Linked DNA regions of Homo sapiens. The protein of the gene in region 2 purifies or fractionates together with the protein of the main gene of each other region. This does not show direct contact. Each region holds a gene or a part of one and is shown on either strand. Other genes may lie near its edges.

What was found.
Region 1: the proteins of PKNOX1 (region 2) and ACOT7 purify together in Homo sapiens (affinity purification with mass spectrometry; 2 studies listed by BioGRID and IntAct, with this or other methods). This does not show direct contact.

Annotation. Positions count from the first base shown.
Region 1 is NC_000001.11:6,381,482-6,394,080, forward strand, and holds the start of ACOT7 (cytosolic acyl coenzyme A thioester hydrolase), read right to left. Parts: upstream 12,287-12,599; 5' UTR 11,919-12,286; coding exon 11,776-11,918; intron 4,288-11,775; exon of another isoform or gene 4,186-4,287; coding exon of another isoform or gene 4,013-4,185; intron 1-4,012. UniProt on the Homo sapiens protein: Catalyzes the hydrolysis of acyl-CoAs into free fatty acids and coenzyme A (CoASH), regulating their respective intracellular levels.
Region 2 is NC_000021.9:43,002,648-43,015,246, reverse strand, and holds part of PKNOX1 (homeobox protein PKNOX1), read right to left. Parts: intron 10,922-12,599; 5' UTR 10,866-10,921; coding exon 10,815-10,865; intron 7,757-10,814; coding exon 7,629-7,756; intron 5,195-7,628; coding exon 5,023-5,194; intron 2,180-5,022; coding exon 2,009-2,179; intron 1-2,008. UniProt on the Homo sapiens protein: Activates transcription in the presence of PBX1A and HOXA1.

The DNA.
Region 1 (12,599 bases), on a different chromosome or scaffold from region 2:
CACCACTTCACACCCATTAGGATGGCAACTATCAAAAAAAAACAGAAAATAACAAGTATTGACAAGGATGCCCAGAAACCAGAACCCATGTACACTGTCGGTGGAAATGTAAAATGGCATAGCCGCTGTGGAAAACAGTATGGTCGTTTCTTTAAAGATTTAAAATAGAATTGCCATATGATCCAGCAATTCCACTTCTGGGAATATATCCTAAAGAACTAAAAACGGGGTCTCTGCTGTGTTCATAGCAGCATTATTCACAAGCTAAAATGTGGGATTAACCCAAGTGTCCATCCACAGATGATGGAATAAGCAAAATGTGGTCCATCCATGAAATGGAACATGATTCAGTCTTTAAAAGGAAGGGAATGAGCCGGGCGCGGTGGCTCACGCCTGTAATCCCAGCACTTTGGGAGGCCGAGGCAGGTGGATCATGAGGTCAGGAGATCGAGACCATCCTGGCTAACACGGTGAAACCCCATCTCTACTAAAAATACAAAAAAAAAATTAGCTGGGCGTGATGGTGGGCGCCTGTAGTCCCAGCTACTCAGGAGGCTGAGGCAGGAGAATGGCATGAACCCGGGAGGCGGAGCTTGCAGTGAGCCAAGATTGCGCCACTGCACTCCAGCCTGGGCGAAAGTGCAAGACTTGGCCGGGCGCGGTGGCTCACGCGTGTAATCCCAACACTTTGGGAGGCCGAGGCAGGCGGATCACGAGGTCAAGACCATTCTAGCCAACATGGGGAAACCCCGTCTCTACTAAAAATACAAAAATTAGCTGGGCGTGGTGGCGGGCACCTGTAGTCCCAGCTACGCGGGGGGCTGAGGCAGAAGAATCGCTTGAATCCGGGAGGCGGAGCTTGCAGTGAGCCGAGATTGTGCCACCGCACTCCAGCCTGGGCGACAGAGCGAGACTCTGTCTCAAAAACAAAAAACAAAACAAAAAAACTGAGCTGGACATTTAAAAATGATTAAAATGAGCCTGGGAAACATAGTGAGACGTAGTGGGTGACAGAGCAAGAAAATATGGCTACAAATACGTATATGGTAGCCAGGCGCTGTGACTCACACCTGTAATCCCAGCACTTTAGGAGGCAGACGGAGATGGGCAGATCCCTTGAGCTCAGGAGTTTGGGACCAGCCTGGCCAACATGGCGAAATCCTGTCTCTACAAAAACTACAAAAATTACCCAGGTATGGTAGCACATGCCTGTGGTCCCAGCTACTCGGGTGGCTGAGGCAGGAGGATCACTTGAGGTAGAGGCTCAGTGACCGAGACTGCACCACCACATGCGCCCCAGAAGACAGAGTAACACCCTGTCTCAATTTAAAAAACAAAACAAAACCTGCCATCTTAACCATATACATATACACATATCATTAAGATGGCAGTTTTTTTGTTTTTTTTTTGTTTTTGGACAGAGTTTCGCTCTTGTCACCCAGGTTGGAGTGCAATGTCACGATCTTGGATCACTGCAACCTCCGCCTCCCAGGTTCAAGTGATTCTCCTGCCTCAGTTTCCCAAGTAGCTGGGACTACAGGCGTGGGCTACCACGCCCAGCTATTTTTCGTATTTGTAGTAGAGACGGGGTTTCACCATGTTGGCCAGGCTGGTCTCCAACTCCTGACCTCAGGTGATCCACCCAGCTTGGCCTCCCAAAGTGGTGGGAATACAGGTGTGAGCCACCATGCCCGGCTAAGATGGCAGATTTTTTTTTTTTTTTTGAGACGGAGTCTTGCTCTGTTGCCCAGGCTGGAGTGTAGTGGCGCAATCTCAGCTCACTGCAAGCTCCGCCTCCCGGGTTCATGCCATTCTCCTGCCTCAGCCTCCCAAGTAGCTGAGACTACAGGCGCCCACCATGACGCCTGGCTAATTTTTTGTATTTTTAGTAGAGACGGGGTTTCACCTTGTTAGCCAGGATGGTCTCGATCTCCTGACCTCGTGATCCATCCGCCTCAGCCTCCCAAAGTTCTGGGATTACAGGCGTGAGTCACCGCGCCCGGCCTGATGGCAGATTTTTTTAACGGTAAATTATATATTATGTGTATTTTAACACAGTTTTTTTTTTTTTGAGAGACAAGAGTCTTGATCTGTTGTCCAGGCTGGATTGCAGTGGTGCAATAAGCTCACTACAGCCTCAACTTCCTGGGTTCAAGCAATCTTCCTGCCTCAATCTCCTGAGTGGTTGAGACTACAGGCACACCCCACCTACCCTGCATCTGGCTAATTTTTTTTTCTTTTGAGACGGAGTCTTGCTCCGTGGCCCAGGCTGGAGTGCAGTGGCACGATCTTGGCTCACTGTAAGCTCCGCCTCCCGGGTTCAAGCCATTCTCCTGCCTCAGCATCCCAAGTAGCTGGGACTACAGGCGCCCGCCACCACACTCGGCTAATTTTTTGTATTTTTGGTAAAGATGGGGTTTCCCTGTGTTAGCTAGAATGGTCTCGATCCCCTGACCTCGTGATCCGCCCGCCTCGGCCTCCCAAAGTGCTGGGATTACAGGTGTGAGCCACCACGCCCAGCCAACATCTGGCTAATTTTTTAATCTTTAATAGAGATCAGATCTTGCTATGTTGCCCAGGCTGACAACTTTTTTGAATTGGAAAATTTTCTTAATTAAAAAATTTTATCTGAGAAGGGACTTGCATCTAGAATATATAAAGAGCTCTCATCACTCAACAACAAAAAGACAATTACACCAATTGGAAAATACAGGAAAGACCTGACTAGACAGCTCTCTAAAAATACACAGTGGTCAATAAGCACATGAGAAGATGCTCAGTATCATCTTCTCTCATTAGGGAAATGTAGATCAAAGCCACAGTGAGATACCACTGCACATCTACTAGCATGGCTAGAATTCAAAAGATGGATAATAACAAGTGCTGACAAGGATATGGGGAAATTGAATCCTTTTTACACTGCTGGTGGGAATGTGAAATGGTGCAGCCACTTTGGAAACAGTCTGGTAATTCCTCAAGAGAATAACCACAAAATTACCATATGACCCAAAAATTATATTCCTAGGCGAGCTGTTTTTACTCATGCTTTTAATAACAAACATGGGTGTCTCTTTCAACCCCACTTCTCCAACTCTCCGACACTAGGTGGGTGTCCTACAATTCAAGTAAAGTCTGGCACTACCTTCTGCGGTATAGGAAGGTAAGGTTGAAAGCGCTAACCCGCTAATCCTCCCTTGGCCTTTCTGGAGACCAGCTCCCATCCTGAAGCTATATCTAGGGCCCCCAGCCACCAGTTCTCTCATTAGCATACTAGACACTCTTAGGACTACAAAGGTCCCAAGGGCTTGGGGAGCTCCATGTCAGGAGAACAAAAAATCCTCCTACCACCCCTTTCAAAATTGATGGAGGTCATGATCCCACAGCTCTGTGAACATAAAACTGAAATCTACTAGCTTGTACACATTAGTGAATGAATTGTATGGCATGTGAACTATAACCCAATAAAGCTGGCACAAAGGGGGAGGTATGTATGCCCACTCAACAGAGTTTCTGTAAAGTTTAGGAGAAATAAAGTATGCAAAAGCCATCTGTAAGCAGCTCAACACTGCACTGTTAGGATCAGCCAATCGTGCAGGAACAGCTCCCTCTGGCCCTGCACCAACCTTCTGGTCTAAAATCACAGCTCAACATCCAGCCTAGGGACAAAGCAGGGCACGGATGCCAGCTGCCAGCTGTGAGCCAGCACAGCTGCTGGCTTGCAGGAGCCTTGATCTGCAGAGGCCCAGATTCCCACAGCCCAGGGTTGCCAGGTCACCTCCTCCAACAAAGCCCGGGTGTTCCGCTCGTCCCTAGGGGAAGAACATGCCAGGTCTCCACTGAGGGTGGCCACTTAAGTGGGCACTTTCAATCCAGCAAAACACACAGCTCATCCAACACCCGACCCTACTACCCTCCCCAAAACTCCTCCAAGTTATGCGGCCCAAGGCCCTGGCTGCCCAGTCGGCGTCGCAAGTGAGACACCATGGGCACAAAATATTCCCAGTCATCCTACCTTCCAGTAATGCAGGCTCCACAGGGTGGGAGATCAGCCCTGGGCCCAACCACCTGGACGGGAGCGCAGCACCCTCGCCGGGGCCCCACACATCCCTGGCCAGCCACCAGCCTCCTGGAAGATGCCTGCCTCCCAAACTCACAGAGCCGGAGAGCCCTGGCAAGCAGCTTCATCCTGCGGTAAGTGGGCAAACTGTTTACCCAGTGACAAGTATGATGCCCAGCAGAGCCCAAGCCTGTGTCTGCCTGGCCGGCTCAGCAGTGAGCCGGTGTGATCCCTCCCTGATAGAAAGCACCAGGCTCCTGCTCCTCCTAGGACCGCCCCTCCCCCACCAGCCCCCGGCAAGCCGCCTCCTCGGCTTCCGGAACTGGATCACAGGATGTTCTCTACAAAAGACCAGTGATGCAAGGAATCCATGACTCGGCCTGAACTCACAGACAGGGAAACAGGACAGGGCCACCACCCCTCTGCGGGAGAGGATGAACTGGGTGGGGCCACAAGCAACACTCATAAGGGTTCCCACCTCCAGGACCTTAAACCTCGCACCACTCAGGCTGGCCCTCAGGCAAGTAGAAGAATGAGTTCCACCTGGGCGGAGTTCCACCTGGGCAGAGAGGTCTTGGCTCACAGGCACCGGGAGAGCTGGAAGGCTGCGGGGAAGCCGAGGAAGGCCAACACACCGCACAACACGGCAGGTGCCTGGCCCTCCTCTGACAGTGGCCCTCAAGCTCCAGGAGGGCCGAGGAAAATGCAGATTCCTGGGCCTACCCCTCCCTGACCTTCCCCGCCCCTGGAGTTAGAGGCAGTAGCTCTGGGGTGGAGGCTCAGGAGCCTGGTTTTCTTTTTATTCTTCATTGTGGTAAACATCAAATGCTTACAAGAGTAGAGGGAGGAGGGAGTGAACCCCTATGTCCCCATCAAGCAGCCCCAAAACAGTCAGCTCAGGGCACCTCTGGTCTCTGCTCCCACCTGCTCCCCATGCCAGGTTATTCTGCAGCAAATCCCGGATTTCCCAGTACGACATCGTAAATATGTCTGCATTTCCTCTCAAAGATAAAAGCTCCTTGTGAAAAACCTAAAGGAGGGGTATGGTGACTCATGCCCACAATTCCAGCACTTTGGGAGGCCGAGGTGGGAAGATCACTTGAGCCCAGGAGTTCAAGACCTGCCTCGGCAACAAAGTGAGATCATGTCTCTACAAAAAATCTTTTTAACATTAGCCAGGCACAGAGGCGTGCACTCGTAGTCCCAGCTACTCGAGAGGCTGAGGTGGGAGAATCCCTTGAGCCCAGAAGGTTGGGGCTGCAGAGAACCATGATTGCACCACTGCACCACTTAGTTGCCTGGCCAACTAAGCGAGACCCTGTCTCAAATAAAAATAAAAACCACAAAACAAAGATCTCATCTAAAATATCATCCAAATTCCTAATATCATTAAATAGCAAGTGACTTCACGTTTCTGTCCTAAATGAATTGAAATCTGCATTTGTGAACTTCATTCACAAGATCCCAAGTCTCTGTGGCCTGGTGAAGAGAAACTGCAGTGTGCAGGGAACAGGGTAATACAGGGCTACGGGGACACAGGAGCGAGGCCCAGCACTGAGCTCGATCCGGTTCCATCGACACGAAATTCTAGAAGAGGCACAGCGAGTGAGTGAAAGCAGATCTTTTTGCCAGGGGCCAACAGTAGGGGAATTTTGGGAGTTTGGAAATATTCGACATCACAACTGGGCCCGCCACTACTCAGTGTGCACACTCATCAAAACTCAGCAAACTGTACGTTTCAAATATTCTTGTGTATGCATTCTAAATCTATCTCAATAAAGCTGGTTTAAAAAAGCAAACTACAAAACAATTATCCTACCTTAAAAAAAAAAGCAGTGATTCCTTAAAATCATTATCAAGGGACTATTCAAGTTTCCCCATTATCTCCTCAATCTTCATCTTGTTGACTCTCTGCTGAAGTACTGTTCACATGCAGAAAACCCATATTTGTAACAGACTTCCCCAGTTATTCCCATGCAGGGGTCCAAGGATGGGGAGGCACATCCTTGATCCCCCTCCCCAGGAGGGCTCTGAGAGTGAGAGGCCAAGGGGTGGGATGGCAAGACAGCCTATGGGGTCACCCCCTGGTGCAGGCTACACAGGCCAGGTGGGTCACACAGGAGAAAGCCACTTCTGGTCTGACCAGAACTGGGGAGCCAGCTAGCTGCAGGTGCCAATTCCAGGGCAATGCCAGGCTAAGTGGCCCACTTACAGCGTGAGGTTGGACAGTGGGTAGACAAAGGCCTCCCCACGCACAGGCTCTCTGGGTTACAAAGACTGCATCTTCACCCAGGGTCCACACATCCCAGCAGCAAGAGAGCCAGCACTGTAAATCATTTTGCGGAATGCTCCAGAATACAAGCTCTGAGTGTGGCTTCTGTAAATCAGGTTCTTTGTTTTTTTTTTTTTCTTTTTTTTTGAGACGGAGTTTTGCTCTTGTTGCTCAGGCTGGAGTGCAATGGCACAATCTCGGCTCACTGCAACCTCCGCCTCCCAGGTTCAAGCGATTCTCCTGCCTCAGCTTCCCAAGTAACTGGGATTACAGGCACCCGCCACTACGCCCAGCTAACTTTTTTTTCTTTTTTTTTGAGACCAAGTCTCACTCTGTCGCCCAGGCTGGAGTGCAGTGGCGGGATCTCAGCTCACTGCAAGCTCCGCCTCCCGGGTTCATGCCACTCTCCTGCCTGCAGCCTCCCCAGCAGCTGGGACTACAGGCGCACACCGCCACGCCCGCCTAATTTTTTGTATTTTTAGTAGAGATGGGGTTTCACTGTGTTAGCCAGAATGGTCTCCATCTCCTGACCTCGTGATCCGCCCACCTGGGCCTCCCAAAGTGCTGGGATTACAGGCGTGAGCCACAGCGCCTGGCCAGGTTCTTTCTTTTCATTAATTCCATTATAAAACCAAAGACAGAGCCCGGCCTGGTGCAGTGGCTCACACCTGTAATTCCAGCACTTTGGGAGGCCGAGGCGGGCAGATCACTTAAGGTCAGGAGTTCGAGACCAGCCTGGCAAACACAGTGAAACCCCGTCTCTACTAAAAATACAAAAATTAGCCGAGTGTGGTGGTGGGTGCCTGTAGTCCCAGCTACTCGGGAAGCTGAGGAGAGGAGAATTGCTTGAACTGGGGAGGCAGAGGCTGCAGTGAGCCAAGATCCTGTCACTGCACTCCAGCCTGGGTGACAGAGTGAGACTCTCTTAAAAAAAAAAAAAAAAAAAGGCCGGGTGCGGTGGCTCACGCCCGTAATCCCAGCACTTTGGGAGGCCAAGGTGGGAGGACCACAGGGTCAGGAGATCGAGACCATCCTGGCTAACACAGTGAAACCCCATCTCTAATAAAAATACAAAAAAAAATTAGCCGGGTGTGGTGGCGGATGCCTGTAGTCCCAGCTACTCAGGAGGCTGAGGCAGGAGAATGGCGTGAACCCGGGAGGCGGAGCTTGCAGTGAGCCGAGATCGCGCCACTGCACTCCAGCCTGGGCAACAGAGTGAGACTCCGTCTCAAGAAAAAAAAAAAAAAAAGACAAAGGTAGAGCCCCTCTTTGTCTTTTCCCTTGGGGGAAATAATTCTAACCCCATAACATACTGAAACTCATAGCCACTCAGCTGCTGTTTATTGACCTGTCAACTAGACCTCAGACACTATTCTAGGCATTCATGGTACCACATGGTACAACACAATTCCTGATCTCAGGAAACTTCCTGGTAGATCTGCATCTAAGAGCATGGCAAGCAAAGAAAACACAAAAAAACCTTGTAGATTTCACACATCTACCTATAAATAAAGCATGCCAAGTTATCTGCCTGCTGGGTGGTGTCCATGCCAAGGTCCCCCTCCATCAGCATGGTTATTCCAGAGCTGGCTACAGTCCCCAGAAAGCCTTGGAGCTTCCTTTAGGAACACCCTGCCCCCCACAGACCTACTAGTAAATTGATGTTTAAATTTCTCTACATATTGCACTCCCCAAAAGATAGCCACCAGCCACAGGTGGCTACCCACCTGAATTTAAATTGATGCAATTAAAAATTCTGTTCCCTTCGTGACCAGCCTGACCAACATGGTGAAACTCCATCTCTACTAAAAAAATACAAAAAAATTAGCTGGGCGTGGTGGCGGGCGTGTGTAATCCCAACTACTCAGGAGGCTGAGGCAGGAGAATCAGTAGAACCTCGAAGGCAGAGGTTGCAGTGAGCCGAGATGGCATCTAGCCTGGGGGACAGGGCAAGACTCCCTCTCAAAAAAAAAAAAAAAAGAAAGAAAAAAAAGCCCCTATCCCTTCAACAATGTCTGAACTGAGAACATGTGACCATTGTGTCTAAGATGGTGGGAATTTGGACGTTCTCACCCCTGCTAGACTGTGACCCCTTAAGGCAGGGGCCACATTTTCCACACGTTTCCCTCCTGGTGCTATGCTTCTTGGCAGTGTCCAGTAAAGCATTGTTAAATTCATGGGCTTGGCTGTGCTAGGCCAGGAGGCTCCTCTTTCAACTTGGGGTGTCAGCTCAGATGTCCTTAAAGGGCTCCCCATCCTAGTACAGTCACTCTCCAGTGTCCTGCGGTTTCTCTGAGTCAAGCCGATGGAACCACAGCCTTCTCTTCACAGGCCTACCCCTACCACCACTCCCGCCTACTCCTTTGGCAGTCACGCTCTGCACCTGAGGCTCACCTGCTCACTCATGAGCAGGGGCAGCCAAGCATCCTCCTCACCAGTCGTCTGGCCAAGGCAGCCACTTAGAAACAATATGCAATTGGCCAGGCACGGTGGCTCATGCCTGTAATTCTCAGCACTTTGGGAGGCCGAGGCGGGCAGATCATCTAAGGTCAGGAGTTCGAGACTAGCCTGGCCAACATGGTGAAACCCCATCTCTACTAAAAATACAAAAATTAGCTGGGCACGGTGGTGCACGCCTGTAGTCCCAGCTACTCGGGAGGCTGAGACAGGAGAATCACTTGAACAAAGGAGGCAGAGGTTGCAGTTAGCCGAGAGTGTGTCACCGCACTCCAGCCTGGGTGACAGAGTGAGACTCCATCTCCAAAAAATAAAGAAACAATATGCAATTGTGAACCTGAGATAGCAGACTTGGTTTACAGTGGGTAAGAAAAAGCACACACACGGGCCAGGCGCAGTGGCTCACGCCTGTAATCCCAGCACTTTGGGAGGCCGAGGCGGGCAGATCACCTGAGGTCAGGAGTTCAAGACCAGCCTGGCCAACATGGTGAAACCCCGTCTCTACTAAAAATACAAAAATTAGCCAGACATGATGGCGGGTACCTATAATCCCAGCAACTCAGGAGGCTGAGGTGGAAGAATCGCTTGAACCCAGGAGGCAGAGGTTGCAGTGAGCTGAGATCGTGCCATTGCATTCCAGTCTGGGTGACAGAGCGAGACTGTCTCAAAAACAAACAAACAAACAAACAAAAAGCACACACTTACTGTATGGAAGTGTCTAAAGCTATACAAAAATCTAGTAACTAGGCTAGGAGCAGTGGCTCACGCCTGTAATCCCAGCACTTTGAGAGGCTGAGGCGGGAGGATCACCTGAGGTCAGGAGTTCAAGACCAGCCTGGCCAACATGATGAAACCCCATCTCTACTAAAAATACAAAAATTAGCTGGGCGTGGTGGCGCACGCCTGTAGTCCCAGCTACTCAGGAGGCTGAGGCACAAGAACTTTTTCCAGCTGGGTGCGGTGGTTCACACCTGTAATCCCAGCACTTTGGGAGGCCGAGGAGGGCAGATCACAGATCACCTGAGGTCAGGAGTTCGAGACCAGCCTGGCCAACATGGAGAAACCCCATCTCTACTAAAAACACAAAAATTAGCCAGGCGTGGTGGCGCACTCTTGTAGTCCCAGCTACTCGGGAGGCTGAGGCCCAAGAATCACTTGAGCCCAGGAGGCAGGGGTTGCAGTGAGCTGAGATCGGGCCACTGCACTCCAGCCCGGGTGACAGAGTGAGACTCTGTCTCAAAAAACAAAAAATCTAGTAACTGTTAGAAGCTGGGTGAAAAAAGACAACATGTATAAATTGGCTATTCACCACCCTGAAGAAGTAAATAAAAGGCCAGCCTTCCACGGGAAGATTTAAATCAAGGTTTCCTTTATTCAGGAGAGGGGTGGGAAGAATACTGGATCTGGAGTCAGAAGACTTGGGCAGGGGCTGTCCCTGGATCTCCTGGAGCAGGATGACCTTACACAGTTACTCAACTCCCAAAACTGCCATTTCCTCCTCCACACAGGTAAGGGTGGCACTACCGACCATCAACCTCCCAGGGAATTGGGCAAACCAAGTGGGATGAGACAGGTATAAGCTCTTTGCAAACCATGGAGCCCAAGTTTCCCAGCCAATACTCAGCAGAGCTGATTCAGGAACCTGATGCAGGCTGTCTGTCTCCAGTTATTTCCTTTTTTTTTTTTGCCCCGCTTTCCCCACCTCCAGAGTCGATGGGACCAGAACAGCCACAGAGCCAAAGTCAAAGGGGCAGGGCTCCCCCAAAGACGTTCCCCCTCTGGAAAAGTCAAAACCGACCTTGAGGTAAGGAGAGGCCCTCGACCAGGCCAGAAGATGAGACTGAGAGTCAAGAATCGCCATAGACCCAGGACTTGCTATATGCCCAGCCTTCCTGGAGATGTCAACATCTACAGGAAAGTAACTTGCTTCTATTGGACTTGGCTTGAGCCCAAGGTCAGTCTGTGATGCCCAACCCCCAAATGTGAGGAACCCACTACCAAAACAGAAAGCAGCTCTCACTCCTGGTAGTTCATCAAGCAGGATAGGACCGGTCGCAGGCCACAGAGCCTGTGTGCAGTGGCTGAAAACCTAGACTCCTTGTCCTCACTTAGCTCATGCACAAATGCCAGCCTGCTGCTTCCGATTCTGCCGAAGAGAACTGCAGAGTAACCTTCAGGCTGCCCTCCCCACCTCCTATGGGAAATGAGCTTGTTCATGATCTCCAGCCTCCAGCTTCCTCTGGGGGCCTGCATCTATCTACTCAGTACCTGGTGGAAGAAGAGGGGGTGCTCTAGAAGGACAACCCTTTGCCTCTATTGTGTAAGATGCTTTCAGGCCCAACAGACCACTGATTCCCTTTTCTTCATAGTAAACTGTTAGAGGTAGACAGTATTATCTGTTCTTCCTTTCAACACCTGCCCTCCCCCAAACCGAAGCAGTGCACTGAAGACGGTAGCTCTGCAACCTCCTCCCACAGGGGCACCCACCGAGGGGCTCGCGCGGCTCTGGGCACCTCCCCTCCACCTCTGGGGGCTTTGGTTAGCGCAGCACAACCGCCGAGGTAATGATCCCGAATCCTCGAGGAGGCTAAGCAGGACCACGGGGCTGAGGCTCCGGGATGCTCGGGCGAGGCCCGAGGCGGGGCGGCCCACGGGCGCCGGTCGCCGGGCTCTGGAGCTGTGCATTGACCTCCGCCCGCCCCGTCCCTGCCTGGCTTTCTCGCCCAAACGGCCCGTGGCGCGGCCGCCGCCCTGGAGATGCGGCCAGGAGGAGCCGGCTGGAGGCGGGCGGGGGCCGCCCGGCTTGTGCGGCATCGCGAGTCGCATCCCGGCCGGGCGGGCGTCCGGGGCGGCGGCGCGGAAGGCCGTGCGGGGAATCGGCGGGCGGGGGCGGCCTCGGCGGGTGGGGACCACAGAGCCAAGCGGGGCAGGCCTGGGGCGGTGACCGGCGCGCCTGGCCGCTGCAGGCTGCGCGCGGGCCCTCTCTTACCGGCAGATCTGGATGGCGGACGGCGTCTCGACGTCTGGGCCCGACATGCTGGGGGCTGCGGCGGCGGATGCGGCGGGCGGCTGCAGAAGGGCGCAGGTGTCTGGCAGGCCCGGCGCGGAATGAATGAGCCCGGGCCGCGCCATAAAGGGGGAGGGCAGAGGTGGAGCGATGGGGCTGGTGAGGCGGGGCCTGCGCGCCGGGGGCAATCGAACGCGGCCTCCCCGCGCCGACCCCGCCCCCGCGCCGGCCCCACCCCGAGCCCCGCCTCCCAGGCCGCCAAGGCTGCAGAGAGCTCGCGCGGGCGTACGATTCTGGCGGCGTGGGGGCCCAGGCAGCCGCCGCTTCCAGAAGGTTCGGTGGCGGTTGGGCCGCGCCGGTGCGGGGAAGGCCCGCTAGCCGCGGCAGCCGCGCCCGACCCGGTGGCAGCCCCGAGGGAAGCGTCTGGGGCGGCCTAAGTGGCGGAGCAGGGCGGACTTGGGCCCTCACTCTCCGCGCGGCGGTAAATATTTGTGCTGGGCGTTCCCGGCCGCCCGCGCCGCCGATTCGCTGCCGCGCCCAGTGCCTGGGCGGCCGGATGAGGTCAGAGCGGAAGGCGCGGCCCGGGCTCCTGGCAGTGGGGCCTGATTCCCACCCCCGCCCCCAACCCACCCCGGCACCAGTCGCCCGCATCGCGGCTCTCGCTAAGATCGGCCCTAAGAGAGAATGGAAGGCTGTTTCCTAGAAAGGAGCATTGGTGGCGGCTGCTGGGAAGACACGGGGAATGGAACGGGCCTTTGCTTCCGCAGCACAAAGCGTCACGAGGTGGGGAGGAGGAAAGGCCGGCG
Region 2 (12,599 bases):
TGATAAAGAGCATCTAGAAAGAAACCTGCAACCAACATCATCGACAGTGAGCGACTGAAAGGTGTCCCCTAAGGCGGTGACAAGGCAAGGATGTCTGCTCTTGCCACTCTTATTCGAGATGGCACAGGCCAGGAAAGGAAATGCTTGGGTATAATTCTAAAAACGCATGTACACAACTTATGTGTCAAAAACTACAAAGCACTGATGAATGAAATCAGAGTTGTCAATCAATGGAGAGACATGCCATACCTGTGGACTGGAAGACTTAATGCAGTAAAGATGTCAATTCTCCCCAGATTGATATACAGGTATAATACAATTCCTATCAAAATCTAAGCAAGATGTTTTTGTAGCTCTAGACAAGAGCATTCTAAAATTTATGTGGACAGGCAAAGGAACCAGAACAGCTAAACAATTTTGAAAAGGAATCACAGGGTGGGAGGAAACAATGTGCCCAGCTTTGAGAGTTATTCTATAGAGAAATCCACTCAAAATGGATCACGGATTTAAATGCAAAATGGACAACTATAAAACTTTTGAGGCCAGGCATGGTGGTTCACACTTGAGCCCAGGAGTTTGGGACAAGCCTGGGCAACATAGTGAGACCTTGTCTCTATTTAAAAACTTTTAGGAAAAAACTTAAGACGAAGTCTTTGGGACCTAGGGTTAGGCAAAGAGTTCTTAGACTTGACACCAAAAGAATGATCCATAAAAGGAAAACCTAATAAATTGAACTTTATTAAAATTAAAAAGGCTGGCTCTGAAAAAGACCTGTTAAGAGGATGAGAAAAATACTTAGCTACTATAGACTTGGAGAAAACACTTGCAAACCACATATCCAACAGAGAACTAGTATCTACAATAAGCAAAGAACTCTCAACACTCAGAAGTTAAAAAAAAATCCAACTAAAAAATGCGCAAAAGACGGCCAGGCGTGGTAGCTCATGCTTGTAATCCCAGCACTTTGGGAGGCCAAGGCGGGCGGATCACGAGGTCAGGAGATCGAGACCATCCTGGCTAATACGGTGAAACCCCGTCTCTACTAAAAATACAAAAAATTAGCCGGGTGTGGTGGCAGGCACCTGTAGTCCCAGCTACTCAGGAGGGTGAGGCAGGAGAATGGCATGAACCCAGGAGGCGGAGTTTGCAGTAAGCCGAGATCGCGCCACTGCACTCCAGCCTGGGTGATGGAGCGAGACTCTGTCTCAAAAAAAAAAAAAAAAAAAAGGCAAAAGACATAAGCAGCAGACATTTTATCAAAGAAAATACACAGAGGGTATAATAATGTTCAACATTATTAGCCATCAGGGAAATGAAAATTAAAACCACAAAGAAATATTAATATCACTACATATCATCAGAATGGCTAAAACACAATAGTGCTTCCGCATGGATGAACCCTCCAGGCATTCTGCACAATGAAACAAGCAAAGGATCCAGAAGGACAAACACTGTACGATTCCGCTTAACATGAGAGACCTGGAGTCATCGAATTCACAGAGACAGACAGTAGAACGGTGGGTTCCAGGGGCTAGGGGAGGGGGAATCCGGAATGAGTGTTTAATGGGGTCAGAGTTTGAGTTTGAGAAGATGAGAAAGTTCTGGAGATGGATGGTGTTGATGGTTGCCCAACAATGTGAATAAACTTAACACCATTGAACTGTAAATTTTAAAATAGCTAAGATGGTAAATTTTATATTATGTGTATTTTACACAATTTTTCAAAAGAATAAGTAAAATATTTTCAGAAGAAATAAAAGAAAGAAATGAATGGAATTGTGCCTTCCATAAACATGGGACCGGGGGCCCAGTATGCAGATTGAGGACTCACTTCATAATCTGAGGGAGTTCATTCCCAAACCAGGCTGGGGTCAGAGACCTAGAGGGTCCTTCTTGTAGAAAGTCATAAAGATGACCCAGTGAATTCTGAAAGAGCTGGTGGTCTCATGACTCAATGCAGATGTTCACAGTGGCAGAGAGGGAAAGCGAGACCCCCAAATGTAAGTACCTGGGACTGCACTGGTGAGTACGGGCTTCCAGGCTCTCCACTCAACAGAGTTTCACTGTTCATTTTTGTTTTCAGACAAGCAATGTATCGACTGCAGAAATCTTTGCAGAGTTCGTTAACCTTTTCCAGCTCAAGAAGATGAATGCGCAAAACCTGGATTGCTTTTACCATCTAGAGCAGAGAAAATGAAGACTTTCAGAGAAAAAGGTGGCATTATTGTAAGTTATCATGATCCTACATACCAGTTCTTAGTCATTAGATAGAACCATCTCTACTGCCAATAACCAAAGTGGAATAACATCAGAAATCCTCTAAACTGATGTGTTGTTCCGGTGCCACTGACCTGGGCTTTGGTGTTTGGCTGCATCTGGTGTGCAGGGAAGACAAAGGCGCGTGGTGGTGACCTCGGTGCATCCCAGTGCTAGGTGTGTGGGCTGTGAGCCAAAGCCTAGCCCTTCCACTGATTCGCTCTGTGGCAGGCAGGACAAGTGACTCACCCTCATCTACTCCTGTTTCTACATCCACAAATAGTGATACATCCACACTCACCCTAGGCTAGTGCTACATTTTCATAAAGTTCCATTTTGGTGTCTTTGCCTAGTTCTAGATCCTCAAGATTTTCTCTTGCGATTTTTCTAAAAGTTATATCATTTTGTTTTGTTTTGTTTTTTGAGACAGAGTTTCACTCTTATTGCCCAAGCTGGAGGCTGAAGTGCAGTGGTGCGATCTCAGCTCACTACAACCTCTGCCTTCTGGGTTCAAGTGATTCTCCTGCCTCAGCCTCCTGAGTAGCTGGGATTACAGGTGTGCACCACCATGCCCAGCTAATTTTTGTATTTTTAGTAGAGATGGGGTTTCACCATGTTGGTCAGGCTGTTCACGAACTCCTGACCTCAGGTGATCCACCTGCCTCAGCCTCCCAAAGTGCTGGGATTACAGGCGTGAGCCACCACGCCTGGCCAAAGTTGTATAGTTTTATATTAAGTAACTACATTTTGGGGTAATTTGTCCCACAGCAATAGATAACTAATACCAATAATGCAGCCATTTTCATAAGCACCAGCTGCCTATGAATCAGCAGCTCCGAAGCCCATCTCCTTCACCTGTAAATCTGGTGGTAGGAATTCGTAGGTATCTATGCAGTGAATAAATGAATCACTCAGTAACAAAAATGATGGAGTGTCAAACTCTGCTAGGCCCTGTGCTAAACACTCACCAGTCAAGAGAACCTTGGTCCCTGCCAGCCTAGTGGGGTGCAGAGGACACCTGTGCTCTACTCACTGGGCCAAGCCAGGTGTGGGCCAATGGGAAGATGGATGTGGACCACAGACTCAGGGGTGGAGAGAGCATCGGATCCTCACCCAAAGAGCATGCACTGTTAGTCTCATCTCAGAGAGGAGGAGACAGATTCAAGTCAGATAACTCACCCACAAAATCTGTTTCATGGTAAGCATCGAGTATATAATGAGAATTTTCTTAAAAACTAAGACCTCAGCAATTTATTCAGGAAAAATGAGTTTTCCAAAAACCTTTTCTGTTGAAGGCCCTAACCAGGGTTTTGATATGGGACCAAGATGGCTCGAAGGGAATCCAGTGAAGGTTCCCTGATGCCGGATCTTTGTGTACCCAGCTCTGAGAAGTAAACACGTGGTTACACTCTGGCAGGAGAGCACACCCAGAGAGTGTGGTCTGCCCAAAGCTGACAGTGCTGTACAGGTGCCTCAGGTGCAGCTCATTCAGAGCAATCCAGTGATGACGGAACCAAGATGTTCTCCATTGCCTCTGGAGGGCACAGAAAACGCTGGATTTTGGAGCCCTGGCCCTGGGGGGAGGGCATCACAAATCACTGTCAGCCTCAAGACAGAGCTGTCGCCGGGCGTGGTGGCTCACACCTGTAATCCCTGCACTTTGGGAGGCTGAGGCAGGCAGATCACAAGATCAGGAGATCGAGACTATCCTGGCTAACACGGTGAAATCCCGTCTCTACTAAAAATACAAAAAAAATTAGCCGGGCGTGGTGGCGGGTGCCTGTAGTCCCAGCTACTCGGGAGGCTGAGGCAGGAGAATGGCTTGAACCTGGGAGGCGGAGCTTGCAGTGAGCTGAGATCACACCACTGCACTCCAGCCTGGGCAACAGAGCGAGACTCCGTCTCAAAAAAAAAAAAAAAAAAAGACAGAGCTGTCTTGGAGAATACAGCTCAAGTCTGTGTCCATGTCCATGATAAGCCAAGGACAGACACAGGTCACAGACATGCCACCCGAACACCCCAGCCCTACGGACCTTTACAAACACTGTGCAGAGAACTGAATCCCCGTGTCCATTTGGCATGGAGGCTCAAATTATTTTATTTTATTTTATTTTATTTTTATTTTTTGAGACAGAGTCTCACTCTGACACCCAGGCTGGAGTGCAGTGGCACAATCTCGGCTCACTGCAACTTCCGCCTCCTGCGTTCAAGTGATTCTCCTGCCTCAGCCTCCTGAGTAGCTGGGACTACAGGCATGTGCCACCATGCCTGGCTAATTTTGTATTTTCAGTAGAGATGGGATTTTGGCCAACATCGAGACCAGATGTTGGCCAGGCTGGTCTCGAACTCCTGACCTTGTGATCTGCCCACCTCGGCCTCCCAAAGTGCTGGGATTACAGGTGTGAGCCACCACGCCTGGCCTATTTTATTTTATTTTTAAAGGAAAGGGTAGGTTGGGCCTTGAGAGACTGAGGAGGGAAGATTGCTTGAGGCCAGGAGTTTGAGACCATCTGGGGGAATACAGTAAGATGTGTCTACAAAAATAAAATAAATCTAAAAATAAAAACTAAATAAATAAAAGATACCTAGAGAAGGCTGGAAGACTTGGGGATATCCACATTACACACACCATAAAAATTCTTTTAGAGTTGTATGAGTCTCTCCTTTAGCAGAACTACAAGCAGTCTAAAGTTCTACTTAGAAGCCTAAAATTTCATGAACAGATTTCACATTTTGAAAACTAAAAATAAAATTTATTTTACTTACTAAATTATCAGTTTCTGGATCTTCACAAAAGAAAGGTTTCCCTTCCTTCTCTTGCTTTCTTACAAAATTTTCGATGTCTACATCAAAACTGGCAGAAGTTGTGCCTTCAGAGCCCTGTGTAGATTGTTCACATTTTTCAAACAACAAAGCTAATAATGGAAATAGTGGATGCCTGAGGAGAAAAGAAAAAAAAGAATCCATTTACGTTCTACATCTCCGTGAGAATGTCTTTGCGTGTATGCCTGCACTACTTCACTAACACCTCTGTTGGGTGAAAATGCACACGCCACACGGTCCACCCGTTGAAAGTATGCAATTCAACGGTTTTTACAGTTGCACAGCATTGCCGCCGTCAACTTTGGAACATTTCCATGATCCCCGCAAAGAAACCCTGTATCCAATAGCAGTCATTCTCCATTTTTTCCCAGACCCCAGCCTGTTAGAACCTACTTGCTATCTCTATATATTTGCCTCTCCTAGACATTCTGTCTAAATGGGAACCGTCTAACCTGTGACCGTGGTGTCTGGCTTGTTTCCCTCAGCATAAAGTGTCCAAGGCTTACCAGTGTTTTACGGGTATCAGTACTTTATTCCTTTTTTTTTTTTTTTTTTTTGAGATGGAGTCTCACTCTGTCGCCCAGGCTGGAGTGCAGCGGCACGATCTCGGGTCACTGCAACCTCTGCCCTCCCAGGTTTAAGCGATTCTCCTACTCAGCCTCCCCAAGTAGCCGGGACTACAGGCACCCGCCATGATGCCCAGCTAATTTTTTTTATTTTTTGAGATGGAGTTTCGCTCTTGTTGCCCAGGCTGGAGTGCAATGGCGTGATCTCGGTTCACCACAACCTCCGCCTCTCGGGTTCAAGCGATTCTCCTGCCTCAGCCTCCCAAGTAGCTAGGACTACAGGCATGCACCACCATGACTCGGCTAATTTTGTATCTTTAGAGACAGGGTTTCTCCACGTTGGTCAGGATGGTCTCAAACTCCTGACCTCAGATGATCCAACCGCCTCAGCCTCCCAAAGTGCTGGGATTACAGGCGTGAGCCACCATGCCTGGCCTAGTTTTTGTTTTAGTAGAGACAACATTTCGCCATTTTGGCCAGGCTTGTCTCGATCTCCTGACCTAAAGTGATCTGCCCGACTTGGCCCCTCAAAGTCCTGGGATTACAGGCATGAGCCACCGCGCCCGCCACTTCATTCCTTTTACTGCTAAATATTCTTGCATTGCATGGAGATGCCATAATGTGTCTGTTCATTCATCAGTTGATGGGCATGGGCACTGTTTCCAGCTTTTGGCCATGATAGGCTGTGCTGCTATGAAAATTCATGTACACGTTTTTGTGTGGACTTTTTTCATTTGTGTTAGGTATACATATGCATAGGAGTAGAATTGCTGAGTTATATATAATTCTATGCTGAACTTAAAAAAAAATTTTTTTTTTTTGAGATAGGGCCTCACTCTCTGTCACTCAGACTGGAGTACAGTGGCATGATCTCAGCTCACTGCAACCTCCGCCTACCGGGTTCAAGTGATTCTCCCACCTCAGCCTCCAGAGTAGCTGGGACTACAGGCATGCACCACCACACCCGGCTAATATTTGTATTTTTTGGTAGAGACAGGGTTTCGCCATGTTGGCCAGTCTGGTCTTGAACTCCTGACCTCAGGTAATCCACCTGCCTCGGCCTTCCAAAGTTCTGGGATTACAGGTGTGAGCCACTGCGCCTGGCAGACTTTTAAATACTAAACAAGTCTGACATTCCCAGGAAAAACTTGACTTGGTCGCTACGTATTATTCTTTTTACATATTGCTAGAATTGATTTGTTAATATTTTATTGATGATTTTTACATCTAAGTTCATGAAGGATATTGGCCTGTATTTTCCTTATTTGGTATTGTCTTTGGTCTTAGTGTCAGAGTGATGTCAATTATAAAGTGAGTTGGGAAGCATTCACTCCTCCTCTACTTCCTGAAAGAGACTATGCAGACTTGCTGCTCTCTTCTTCTTTATATGTTGGGTAGAATTCTCAGTAAAATCATCTGTGCCTGAATATTTCTTTTTGCAAGGTTACACAAAATTTATAGATTGATATTCTAAAACTTTTATAGGTATTAGAAATAACATCTTTGTGTGTGTGTGTGTGTGTGTGTGTGTGTGTGTGTGACAGAGTTTTGCTCTCGTTGCCCAGGCTGGAGTGCAGTGGTGCGATATCAGCTCAATGCAACCTCCGCCTCCCCGGTTCAAGTGATTCTCCTGCCTCAGCCTCCCAAGTAGCTGGGATTACAGACATGTGCCACCATGTCTGGCTAATTTTTGTATTTTTAGTAGAGATGGAGTTTCACCATGTTGGCCAGGCTGGTCTCAAACTCTTAACCTCAAGTGATCCGCCCGCCTCAGCCTCCCAAAGTGCTAGGATTACAGGCATGAGCCACCACACCTGGCCAGAAATAACATCTTAATCTGAGAAAATTTTCAGCCGAGCAGTTATCACATCATAATGGCACCTCACAACTCTGCCTCGCTACTAGTTCTGGTGTTCCTTTTAACAAACTTGTGGACACTCCTCACTCCTCTGAGGCCCCCACAGCCGGCACCCCGGGCACTACCTATAAATGGCCTGCTTGTCCACATCCATCGGGGTCTGAGACTCCACAGGGGGAGGGCTCACTCCTTCTGCATCGGGTTCAGAGCAGTTTGGATCTTGTTCTGTCTTTAACTCTGTTACTACTTGCATCTGTAAAAGGAGGAAGATAATTCTTATTAGCAAACACAAACTACTACGAGGTATTCCATGCTCCAACAGGAATGCAGTTGGAGTGGGGAATTGCCAGACAGCAGTATGACTGCAATCATATGTAAAGAATGCTACCAACAAAACAGCTTTGAATTTAATGTGCTTTAAAATAAAGGTAAAATTTCCAAACTGCTTAAGAACTGAGATAACCAATGTCTGTGAAATGCTCATGATTTTAAAATAACACTGGCGATGGCCTAATGAAGAGAACGGCACACGTGCAATCTACTCCTCCGTCTATTGCTATATCTCCTCACGTGTAGCAATACTACAGTCAGAGAAGCATAGACAAATAGTCCAAGGTCTTCTTACCATGTCACAGACACAACCTAACCCATACGCTACATATTTGGGACAAGGTTGAACTTCTCCCATATCTACCCTCAAACCTCAGCAATACATAGCCATAAAAATGTCACTGCATTCAGAAAGGAAAAGGCCAGCTGTGTTTACTTAAAGCCTTAAAAGATACTATCATTTAAACTGCTTTAAACAAGCAATGCCTTTGTCATTTAGGTAAAAAACATTTAAATCGTTAAAAAAAATCAGTTTACAAAAACAAAATTTCGTGAAAGTAAACTTCTAGTTATCCATGAGCAGCAGATTAGACTGTCCTGACCTCAGCTTCCTCAGGACCAGGACGGGCCATTTCTCCCGCGGTGGATTTGGCCATGCTTCTGCCCCTTGAGGAAGCAGCTTGGGGCAGCGGGGGCGGGGAGACCTCATGGGAGCGGGGCCATCCCCACTGTCCAGACAGACTGGGGGCCAGCCATGAACGCCCACCCGCACAGGACGCCTCTCACATCCTCCAGCCCTGTGCTCTCTTCCCTCCAATGTCTTGTTTTTGCAATAAGATGACTTCTATTCTGCTGCCTTTAAATGGTACAACATATTAGGAAAACTGTTTATGTTTCTCTTAAAAAAAAAAAATAAAAGCAATAAAGCCTAAGTGGACACAGTATTTGTGTAAGGCAATCTGCCAGCATGTATAAAAAGCCTTAAAAAGGCCAGGCACAGTGGCTTATGCCTGTGATCCCAGCACTTTGGGAGGCCAAGGTGGGCGGATCACCTGAGGTCAGGGGTTCAAGATCAGCCTGGCCAACATGGTGAAACCCTGTCTCTACTAAAAATACAAAAAAATTAGCTGGGCGTGGTGGCACACACCTGTAATCCCAGGTACTCAGGAGGCTGAGACAGGAGAATTGCTTGAACCTGGGAGACGGAGGTTGCAGTGAGCTGAGATCACACCACTGCACTCCAGCCGGGGCAACAGAGCAAGACTCTGTCTCAAAATAAATAAATAAGTAAATAAATAAATAATAAAAAATAAGAAGCCTTAAAAGATTCATTTCAGTATTTGAAAAAAAAATGATTGTGAAAAGAGAGAAACCTAAATGTTCAACCTTGGAAAAATGGCAAAATAATTATGATAGGTCTACGCTGTAGATATATTTCAATGTTTATTTAAAATAATGCTGATTAAACACTTCCGAGGCCCTTGGAAACACTCGGGTATGAAAAGGGCAGTGCTCCAGGTGTCATCTGCACCTGGCACAGCTGCCTGGGAGGAGGTGGCTGGTAGCAACCAGGCTGTGTTGGAGGTGGTCACCGTGCCTTGGTGCACAGGAGGCAGCAGTGGGGTCGGAGCAAAGACCTGGCAGGCAGGAGGGAGAAGAGTGATGGGAACAGTGAGGACCGGTGCTCCAGGGCAGGCAGAGAGGTGCCCAAGATATGCCAGGCAGAGATGTTGGGGGCGTCCTGGGGTCCAGAGGGGCCAGACGATTCGGGCCACAGAGCAGCTCAGTCTTTGCATGAAACCCACAGGAATCCACAGGGAGCCACTGGAGAGCTCAGGCGGGACATTATTAGATTTGCATTTTAGAAAAAAAAAAAAAAGTCAATTGGAAATACCAAAGGACTAAGGACTTCTAGGCTAAGGAAGCAGGCTGACTACATCACAGAATCTCCCTCCTTTAATTGCTATACAGAGAAAAAAAAACACTAACACCACCACCACCAACAACAAAAATCTCTGCCACAGGAACTGAACAAGGACTGGTTGGTAAAACTAACCACCAGGGAAAGGGGGACCCAGCGCCTCAGCTCCTAACCCCTCCTCAGACCTCACCAGCATGGCTCCAGTGAGTTTTCCGGAGCCTGATCCTTGCCACCGAAGTCCTCGAGGTGGGGAGGAGAGCCGAGGGGGGTGTACTGCACTGCCCCTGCCTGCTGGGCAGGAAAGTAAAGGGCAGGGCCAAATCCCTTCACTGGCTCCAGAGTCAGTGGGATGATGAGCCAAATGCCAGTGGGTTCAGAACACCGTGTTTAACAAGATCGCAAGCCAAGAAAGACCACAAGGGCCTCAGCCAAGTCTCGATCCACCTGCTCCTCAATTCATTCAGGTCACAGAACACAAAACACTCAGATACTCAAAAGCACAAAACACCACAGCTTCCAGGAGAACAAAGTCTCATCTATGGTGGGAGGGCAATGGAGAGCTGCCCGTGTATGGCACAACCATCCAAGCACGAGCAAGGTACAAAGATAGAGCACTGGGGCCCCTGCAAATTCATTACTGGGACAGCCCCTCTCATGCCTACAACTGGGGAGACGAGGCTACAAGATTCCCATTCAAAAGCTGATCCAGTTAGACACTCAGAAGAGCCACCAGTCAACATGGGAATCTGTCATCATGAAAATCAACCGGGTTTTCTTTCAAAGTAACAGTGCTAATTAACACTGACATTAAAAAGGTAAATTCCCAAGAAACTGTCATATGACTTAGGGAAGTCAAGATTCCTGGCAATCTTGGTATCAGTTAACGAAATAGTATTATTCTATGGCTTTTTTTCTGAACACGAATGTACAATAAATGCATAATACACTAACACTGAGCATGCAACCTCATGGCAATTGAATTGCAAGTATACAAAGCAATGTTCATGCTTGAGTGCCAGGTTGATTTGTAATTAGAATGCAGAATCAAGTTCAAGCTCACCTGTTGCCCATCTTGATAGCTGTCTATACTTAATGTCTGTGTAGCCATCATGGTTCATCAGAGTTTTATAAGACATCAAATCATCTTGGGTGAAAAGCGAATGGTGTCTGGAGAACAAAACCAGAAAAGCATCAGTTAATAGTTGTAGAGCATTTTTTGTCTCCCTCATTCCATAACATCAAATTTTTTTTTTTTGAGACCGAGTTTCACTCTTGTTGCCCAGGCTGGAGTGCAATGGCGCGATCTCGGCTCACCTCAACCTCCGCCTCCCAGGTTCAAGTGTTTCTCCTGCCTCAGCCTCCCTAGTAGCTGGGATTACAGTCATGTGCCACCATGCCTGGATAATTTTGTGTTTTTAGTAGAGACGGGGTTTCTCCATGTTGGTCAGGCTGGTCTCGAACTCCCGACCTCAGGAGATCCACCCGCCTCGGCCTCCCAAAGTGCTGGGATTACAGGCATGAGCCACCACACCCAGCCCATGACATCCAATTTTTAAAAATACATATTTTTACATGTAGAGAACAAAAAAATTATCCTTAACAGTATGTTATGACCCAAATCCTACTTAGCAACCCTTCACTTACATAGCAATCACTTATTTTCCTGTGCTAGGCCCTGACTTGCTATTACATTTTCAGTCACTGTCATTCATTGCCCAGCTAATATCAAGTCAATGCCTGCCCATGCCAGGCAGCATGCTGGGCCTGGGGTGCGGCAGTGAGCAGGACAGGCAGGGCCTCTGCCTTCCTGACACAAACCAGGCAAGGGAGAGACACAATACACAGGGTCAAGAATGGGCACAGGGTGAAGTGAGAGGGGGCCTGGGCTGCTTTCCCGGGCCGTGTGGTCAGAGCAGGCCTCGCTGGGAAGATGCTGTTACGTCGAGACTGGAGAGACAGGCTGAGATCAGGGAGTTTGGTGTTTCAGAGAGAGGGAACAGCTAACACAGAGGCCTGAGACGGGTGGAAAAGAGGCGCTCAGGGAGACTGAGATGGGCATGCTCATATACACACGCACATAAGACAGGCAAGTGTGGCGCACTTGCTTCATGACAACAGAAAACCGCAAAATGCCACTTCCGCACTGAAGGATGGAGCAGGAACGCAACCAGCACCTGCAGCATGGGTGTGGAAAAACACTGCAGAGTGGGGGAGAGCAGCCGGGCTGGACCACGGCCGGCATGGCCTTGCTGCTGCTGGTGCAGGTCACAGACATTTAGAGTCTGGGCTGCCCTGAGAAGGTCATGTGGAGGTCAAGGGCAGTTGTGCCACTTGTTCTGGACTAGCAAGAACAGCAAAGTTCCCCAAGGAAAGCAGCACTTTAGGAGACAGTGTTAAATGGAAAGAAATCCTGTCCAAGTCTTGCAGGATGCAGAAGGACTACCGTCCTGTCCTGAGCGAGACAGTTCAAAGGAACAAGGAGCCGGGCAGTGGCTCACGCCTGTAATCACAGCACTTTGGGAGGTGCAGGCGGGTGGATCACAAGGTCAGGAGTTTGGGACCAGCCTGGCCAACATAGTGAAACCCTGTCTCTACTAAAAATACAAAAATTAGCCGGGCATGGTGGCATGCGCCTATAGTCCCAGCTACTCAGGAGGCTGAGGCAGCAGAATCGCTTGAACCCAGGAGGCAGAGGTTGCAGTGAGCCAAGATCGTGCCACTGCACTCCAGCCTGGGTGACAGAGCGAGACTCCATCTCCAAAAACAAACAAATGAAAGAAAAAGGAACAAGGAGTCCAGTGAGAACAGCAGCAGCCGTGGCAGCAGCCAGGTCGCCTCTTGAGCA